2 linked regions of the Homo sapiens genome follow. The protein of the gene in region 2 purifies or fractionates together with the protein of the main gene of each other region. This does not show direct contact. Each region holds a gene or a part of one and is shown on either strand. Other genes may lie near its edges. The genes, in order: TBCA and EIF4EBP2.

The links.
Region 1: the proteins of EIF4EBP2 (region 2) and TBCA fractionate together in Homo sapiens (co-fractionation; one large-scale study listed by BioGRID). This does not show direct contact.

The regions. Positions count from the first base shown.
Region 1 is NC_000005.10:77,773,352-77,777,692, forward strand, and holds the start of TBCA (tubulin-specific chaperone A), read right to left. Parts: upstream 2,989-4,341; 5' UTR 2,907-2,988; coding exon 2,854-2,906; intron 1-2,853. UniProt on the Homo sapiens protein: Tubulin-folding protein; involved in the early step of the tubulin folding pathway.
Region 2 is NC_000010.11:70,417,588-70,421,399, reverse strand, and holds part of EIF4EBP2 (eukaryotic translation initiation factor 4E-binding protein 2), read right to left. Parts: intron 1,487-3,812; coding exon 1,301-1,486; intron 1-1,300.

The sequences.
Region 1 (4,341 bases), on a different chromosome or scaffold from region 2:
TTTTTAACTTCATTAAACCTCAGTTTCTCATATGTAAAATGAGAATCCAAACAGTATTATTAACATTTACTACCCACTTGCTATTTGCCACATACTGTATTAAACAGCATAGCAGGCAGTTCTTGCAACAACTGCTTGAGTTGGGTGCTTGCTCTATTTTACAAATAAGGTAAAAGAGGCACAGCACAATGTAATATATTCCACAACATAGAATAAAGGGCAGAATCAAGATCTGAACCCAAGCAGTCTCACTTCACAAATGGCTGTGCATTTAACTCCTACTCACATGGTCTCCTTATTGCCTTGGCAATAAAGCTTCCCGGGAAGTGGGATGCTGTGCTAAAACTCAGAAGCATTATCTTAAAAAGTGAATTTATTCTCCCTTTTGCCTGGTCCTTCCTCTGGTGGAAATATCAATAAACAAAGGAAAGGTGGGCGAACAGGAAGAAGCCAGTTGGTTTCTTTAGTAGACATTGCTACAACAAAATAACTTGCTTCTTCAGAAGGCTGTTTATCTTTTCTCTTGTAATACTTCATCAAAAAGTTTGCTCTTCTTGGGTCTGAACAATAAAGTTCTAATGAACACTGAAGGGTCTACCAGCACTCAGGAATGCAAACTAAAAACAAAATTCTAAGCTCCAAAACCGTCTGAATGGACCCCTCCTCTCAACTAAGGGCATTCTAAAGTAATTCAGGCCATGATGGGAAGAGGGGGTCAGACATGTCTCATTACACATTCCTCCCTTTGGAACTCAGGAACAATTGAGCAGCATTAACATTAAAACAGATCTTAAGGCTTTTTGTAACAATAAGACACCAAATTCCAGCTTTACTCTAGTATGGCATCACAGGACAGATAGCGGGATCTGAAAGAAATAAAAGCATTTTACTCTAAAATATATTTCTTTACATATTTTGAATTGGCCCTGCAAAGATGTCTCTTAAGGGGAAAATCTATATTCTGTAGAGAACCCTCTTCCCTGTCCAGGTCTTTTTCCTGATCCACTAGAAAATTAACTAGGAGTCTGGGACCTTTTTAAGTCTGATAAGAAACATTTACAATCTATTCTCTCTGAAGCCTGCTACCTGGAGGCTTCATCTGCCTAATAAGAACCTTGATCTCCACAACCCCTTTATTTTAACCCAGACACACTCCCTTGTATTGATTCCAGGTCTTAAGATAAACTCTTTCAACGAACTGCCAATTGGAAAACCTCCTATAACTTGGAACTGTCCCCAGCCCGCTTTGGGTTGTCCTGCCTTTCCAGATCAAACCAATGTACATCGTACATGTATTGATTGATGTCTTCTGTCTCCCTAAAATGTATAAAACCAAGCTGTAGCCTGACCACCTCGGGCACATGTCATCAGGACTTCCTGAGGCTGTCACAGGCATATCCTTAACCTTGGCAAAATAAACTTCTAAACTGATTGAGACCTGTCTCAGGTACTTTCTTGGTTTACAGGAATTTAAGCAAATTACAGGACTGCACTACCCATGAGTTTGTGAAAGGAAAAATAAATCTCAGGACCCCAAAATCACTAAGCCAAAAAGAAAAGTCAAGCTGGGAATTGCATCGAGCAAACCTGCCTCTCATTTTATTCCTGAATAAGATAGCTACAAAGATTAAAAAAAAAAAAAAAAAAGCTACATACCTCCCTGACAATTTGCCCCCAAGGAAATTCCTTGTGGGCCTCAAGACCTTCACTCTAAAACAGTTCTGTTGTATTTCACCCTGGCAATGTAAATTGATAGCTTATCTTCACAGGTATGGGACAAAGAACAGAACTCAAAGTCACCCCTCTACCCACCTGAGACAAATGCGTAACTGACTGCTTCCTCTGCCCTACTGTGTATGTAAAATCGCAGATTCATTTAGCCGACTAAGGCATAAGTGACTATTCTTCTATCCCTCTCTCACATGTAAATTGTGTATTAAGTGAAAAGCTGATCAAAGACTCAAAAGAATGCAACCATTTGTCTCTTATCTATGACCTGGATGCCCCCCAACCTTCTAGTTGTCCTGCCTTTCTGGAGGGAACCAAGGTACACCTTACCCATTGACTAATATCTGAGGTCTCCCTAAAACGTATTACACCAAGCTGTGCCCCAACCGCCTTGGGCACATGTCATCAGGACCTCCTGAGGCTGTGTCATGGGCACGTCCTTGGCAAAATAAACATTCCAAATTAAGACCTGTCTCAGATACTTCTGGTTCACAAGTTATTTAAACAGCATCTCACAGCCTCTGGGGCGAGCTTCGGGGAATCTGACTGGAGAAAGTGAGGCCACATAAGTTTGCTGAGTGTGCTAGAAGTTCAGGCCCAGTTCTCAAAGCCTGCCAGTCACGCCAGCCATGTTAGGTCACACGGCTCCACTACGGTCTTTTTTGACGAGGCCCAGATCCTCCGCATCCCCCTAAACTTCAGAGCCTGCTTTCAAGCCCATTTGAGAGCACAGCTGGGATCCCGCTTCCCCGGGCCAAGTTCAGCAAGGAGAGGCCGGCGCGCGCACACAGGAGGCACGGGATCAGGGCCCGGCCCGCCCTCGCAGGCCGCGGCCCACCACCTTCCCACCGCGGGCGCCGAGAAACCGGGCCACCGCCGACTCTTCCGGCAAATCAGAGCGGCCAGTGAGCGGAGAGGGACGGGAAGCGGCGTGCGAGGCTGGCGGGCTCGGGCGTCAGCGCGCCCCGCTGGGTCCCTGCCAGTCCCAGCCAACTGCGGAGCCCCGGGTGCGGCCTGGAGTTCGGAGCCCGCCTCGGGCCTCCTCGGGCCTGCGCTCCGCTCAGCCTCGCGGGCCGCCATGAGGTGACGAAGAGGAGGTGCAGGGCGCCGCTCCCGGCTCCTTACCGCTTCACCACGCCGGTCTTGATCTTGATCTGTCTCACGCGAGGATCGGCCATGGTCCCTCGAGCGCCGCGAGAAGGAGGGGCGGAGAGCCGGGGTAACCGTGGAGGGCGACGCGCAGAGGCTGCGGCTATTTAGGCGTGGTCGCCGGCGCGCATGCGCAGGCTGCGCGGCCCGTCGTCCCCGCCACGCCCCGCGGGGCGGGTTTACTAGAGGGCGGTACCCTGCTCCCGCCAGTCCCTTTACCCCTCGTGCGCCCCTTTACCCGTAGTGAAACGTGCCCTCCTCCTCTCTCTCGGACTGCCCCTCTTTTTACTTCAGGCGCAAGTTACACTATCCCGGTCTCCACAGCCTGGGCCTTTGGGGAAACTAACGTCTCTCTGGGACGTTGCTTTGCGGGATTATCTGCTTAATGGACGGAGTGACCTAAAAAATGTATTAAGGGTATTTTCGATGTCGTTATCTGGTGTCAGATGAGGCAGAGTGATGCATGTGTAGTGAAACAAACTGCCATCATGCACGCAGTCAAGAAAATCCTTGCCCTTTACCTCAAATCCCTGCAAGAAGGTTTGTAGATAACGTGCCTTTCAAAGGAAATGACTAACAGAACTTCTTCAGATGATCACTTATAGTGTATCCTAAATATTTAACTTACAAGAATGTGTGTCGCACACAAAACCTTGGGCTTCCTAATCAGACAAACCGGCTTACAATCGAGGTTCCACCCTTTAATAGCTAGACTATTAGCTAGACAACACTGATACGTATGCTGTTTAGCCTTGCAGCTGATCAGTCTGCAAAATGGAAATAATAATGTCCATTTTACAGATTAGGTATAAGGGTTAAAACACCTAGCTCATTGTCTGACGCATGGTAGATGCTGAACAACATTTGACTATTTTATATGTTCAAAAATATATTTGTTGCATAAAATGAGGCACATCTACAGTGAGCTCTAGCAGTCCCTTCCTAAGAGAATCTCCTGAGGAATACAGGGCAGAATCGCCCTTTTTAAAATTGCTTTTCTTTTTCTTTTTCTTTTTTTTTTTTTTGAGACAGATTCTCACTCTGTCGTGCAGTGGCTTGATCTCGGCTCACTGCAACCTCCGCCTCCTGGGTTCAAGTGATTCTCCTGCCTCAGCCCCTAGAGTAGCTGGAATTATAGGCGCGTTCCACTATGCCTGGCTAATTTTTTTTTTTTTTTTTTTTTGTATTTTTAGTAGAAACGGGGTTTCACCACGTTGGCCAGGCTGGCTAGAACTCCTGACCTCAGGTGAGGCCCACCTCACCCTCCAAAAGTGCTGGGATTACAGTCATGAGCCACCGAGCCCACCCCCTTTTTAAAATTTCTTGGTACCATCCTTCAAAGACACCCATATGACTGTCTTTTTCCTTCCCTAGCCTGACTTACTCATTCTCACTTTCATGACTGGTCCTGGAATCCCCTTCTATCCCGCCAGCCCAAGGCCGTTACTTTAAATCCAGGATCAA
Region 2 (3,812 bases):
GGAGGCTTTGGACTTTGGCCCTGCTCCAAACTAACACTTTGTCCATTAAAAAACTCATCTGAAATATGACAAAGCGGAATGCTGGCCCCCATCTAGGGGTCACCAAGTGCAGTCCCTGAGGAATATTTCAGGAGCTGGCCACTCCTACCGCACCATTCTGCTTCTACAGTGATAAAGAAAAAAAGAATGTGTTGGAGGAGGGGTAATTTAGGTAAACCTTAAACGCAGTTCTGGAAAATAGAGGAAATAAACCATACCGCTTTTCCTCACACCATATAAAAGAAACTCATATAAGAAACAAGGTCGGCCAGGCGCAGTGGCTCACACCTGTAATCTCAGCACTTTGGGAGGCTGAGGCGGGCGGATCACGAGGTCAGGAGATCGAGACCATCCTGGCTAACATGGTGAAACCCCGTCTCTACTAAAAAATACAAAAAATTAGCCGGGCGTGGTGGCAGGCGCCTGTAGCCCCAGCTACTTGGGAGGCTGAGGCAGGAGAATGGCGTGAACCCGGGAACCAGAGCTTGCAGTGAGCCGAGATCGTGCCACTGCACTCCAGCCTGGGCAACAGAGCAAGACTCCGTCTCAAAAAACAAAACAAAACAAAAGAAACAAGGTCTATTTGCCTGAGGGTGATGGAAATGGGGGCTATGAAATTGTTTTGTTTTCTGTGTGTGTTATCCTTAGTCCAATGAAGCCTAGGCCAGGAAGTCCTTAAGGCATGGTTCAAAGAGTCATTTTTGGGGTTTATCATCCTGATTCTGGATTCTTTTCTCCCACCAACTACATCAGATTTATGATTTAGAATTCAGGGTTTTCAGAGTATTTCAAGAAACCTTTGGGGGAGGAGGGAAACCTTAGAGACATATAACTGAACATTAGTTATTAACTGAAGAATTGGCCAGGCACAGTGGCTCACACCTGTAATCCTAGCACTTTGGGAGGCTGAGGCAGGTGGATCACCTGAGGTCAGGAGTTCAAGAACAGCCTAAGCAACATGGCGAAACCCCGTCTCTACTAAAAAATACAAAAATTTGCCAGGCGTGGTGGCAGGCGCCTGTAATCCCCGCTACTCGGGAGGCTGAGGCAGGAGAAACGCTTGAACCCAGGAGGCGGAGGTTGCAGTGTGCTGAGATTGTGCCACTGCACTCCAGCCTCAGTGACAGAATGAGACTGTGTCTCAAAAAAAACAAAAAACAAAAAACAAAACTGAAGAATCAATAGCTTCTCAACCTACAGCAAACAGACATTCAAATTCCAAGAGCCACGCTCTAGGTCTCCAACATCGCCATTCTCTTACCAACTGCATGTTTCCTGTCGTGATTGTTCAAGTTGTTCAAATTGTTTACTTCTACTTTGGAGTCTTCAATTAAGGTGCCAGGGCTAGTGACTCCTGGGATATTGGGCAGGTGGCAGGGTGGGGTCTGAGCCATGGGAGAATTGCGACGATCCAACAGAAACTTTCTGTCATAAATGATTCGAGTTCCTGGAAAACAGGGTTAAAAAGAGTTTGAAACAATTTAAGGGGTTATCAACATATAATACCACCCAGGAATTTAATTTAAATCCCATGTAATCCTAACTTTTAAGGATTTTACAATTCAAGTTGAAAGCATAATCTCTAACCTCTCTGCCTGTAAACAGGCTCTTCTGCCATCTGGAATGCCCTTTCTCTTCTGCCAGGGACACTCCTGTTGATCCTTCAAGACTCAGCTCCAACCATCACTTCCTTTATGAAGCCACCCCCACCCCTCACTTTTTTAAAAGGTTCTTCCTCTCCATCTTACACACATCATGTATTACAGGACTCCTGTTTATCCATCTGTCTCTCTTTATAGACTCTGAGTTTCTTATGTCAGGGCTATGTCTTATTTATATGTGACCTAGGCCCTAACATTAACATCTTTAAGAAAAAAAAAGTTTTAAATGAAAGAATAAACAAGTATGAGAAAAAATAAACAGCCCCTTTTAAAGGCTTTCCAAAGAAGGACTGAGACTAACATTCTTCTCACAGCTATAGTCAAAGCTGAAACTGGCAGCCCCTCTCTATTCTACAAAACAATCTGCTTACCAGTTAAGTGCTACCTGAATGTTTTAAAAACAATAGTTTTGAAGAGTACACTTTAACTGATAAACAGTTATGGAAACGTGCTGCTTACAAATGGTCAACAGGTACATTAAAAGGTGCTCGACATCACTAATCATCAAGGAAATGCAAATCAAAACGACAATGAGATATCACTTCACATCTCTTAGGATGGCTATTATCAAAAAGACAAGAGAGCCTGGGCATGGTGGCTCATGCCTGTAATTCCAACAGTTTGGGAGTCCAAGGCAGGAGGACTGCTTGAGCCCAGGAGTCTGAGTCTAGTCTGGGCCACATAGTGAGACCCTGTCTCTAAAAAAATTATTTTAAAAAGAGCCAAGTGAGGTGCTGTTGGTCTGAAGTCCCTACTACTCGGGGGTTGAGCCAGGAGAATAGCTTGAGTCCAGGAGTTCGAGGCTACAGTGAGCTATGACTGCACCACTGCACTCCAGCCTGGGCAACAGAGCAAGATCCTGCCTCAAAATGTAAATCAAATATAATTTTAGGACAAGGAAAGTAGAAACTTACCTTCAACCTCTTTGCTTTGAAAAACAAAAACTAGAGTAGCACTCAAAAAGGCATCTAGAAATTATGAGGAACGAGGCATTCTGGGTAGCACAAAACTTAGTTCAACTTTCAAAGGGTAAACAATTTCAATTATCTTGAATGAAAATACTTCTAATACAGATTTAAATCCCTTTATGGCCTTCAACAGAAAATGATTCAACCCTCTTGATGAATCACAGTATTATGAAAATTGTTTATTATACTATGTTGTGACCTAAGAAGTCTCTAAGCCCTATCAAGTTGGTGCTCTGTACAGCTGAACATCACTATACAGAGTTCGGATGGTCAAAGTTGTGCTGGTGCACCCCTCCCCCACAGTGCCCTTGTCCCCTTAGACTAAGAGCTACCTTTTTTCCAGGCTACTACTATGACTCAGTCAGCTTAGGCTGCCATAACAAAATACCACAGACTGCACAACTTAAACAACAGAAATTGTCTCATAGTTCTGGAGGCTAGAAGTCCAACACTAAGATGCCAGCATGGATGGTTTCTGGTGAGGGCTCTCTTCCTGGCTTGTAGGTAGCTGCCTTCTCTTTGTGTCCCTTACATGGGGGTAAGGGGGCCTCAACTCTGTGGTGTTCCATCTTATAAGGGCACAAATCCCATCATGAGGGTCCCACCTTTATGACCTCAACTCAGCCTAATTAACTCCCAAAGGCACCACCTCCTAATACTATCATGTTGGGAATTAAGGTTTCAACATAAGAATTTTGGGGAGACACAATTCAATCTGTATAGCACACCCTTAACACCCTTTCTAACTTGGTGTTTCTAGTCTGGTGGGTTTGGAAATCAGCAACTTGCTTATTAGCATGCTATGTAAAATAAGGGCAAATAGGCTGAAAGGGGGTCTGATGGCCTTCCAATGAACAAAGGGAAGGAGCTTTAACAATGGACTTTGCCTATCTGTTTGAGTTACCCCACTTTTGTTCATGATGAGATTTCAGAAGGGTGAGGTTTCACTGTCAGATGAGTCAACTTGCAAACTGGAACAAGATTATTCTTACTTCTGTAGTACATCAAGCTTGGAAATTGTGGAGATGAGGTGGTGAAAAAAGCACAGCACAGAAGCAAGCTTTCTAAATTATGTATCAGCAACAACGCATACATTAAAGAATTGCAATTAAACCAACTAGGATATAGGTAGTGGAGATTCTGC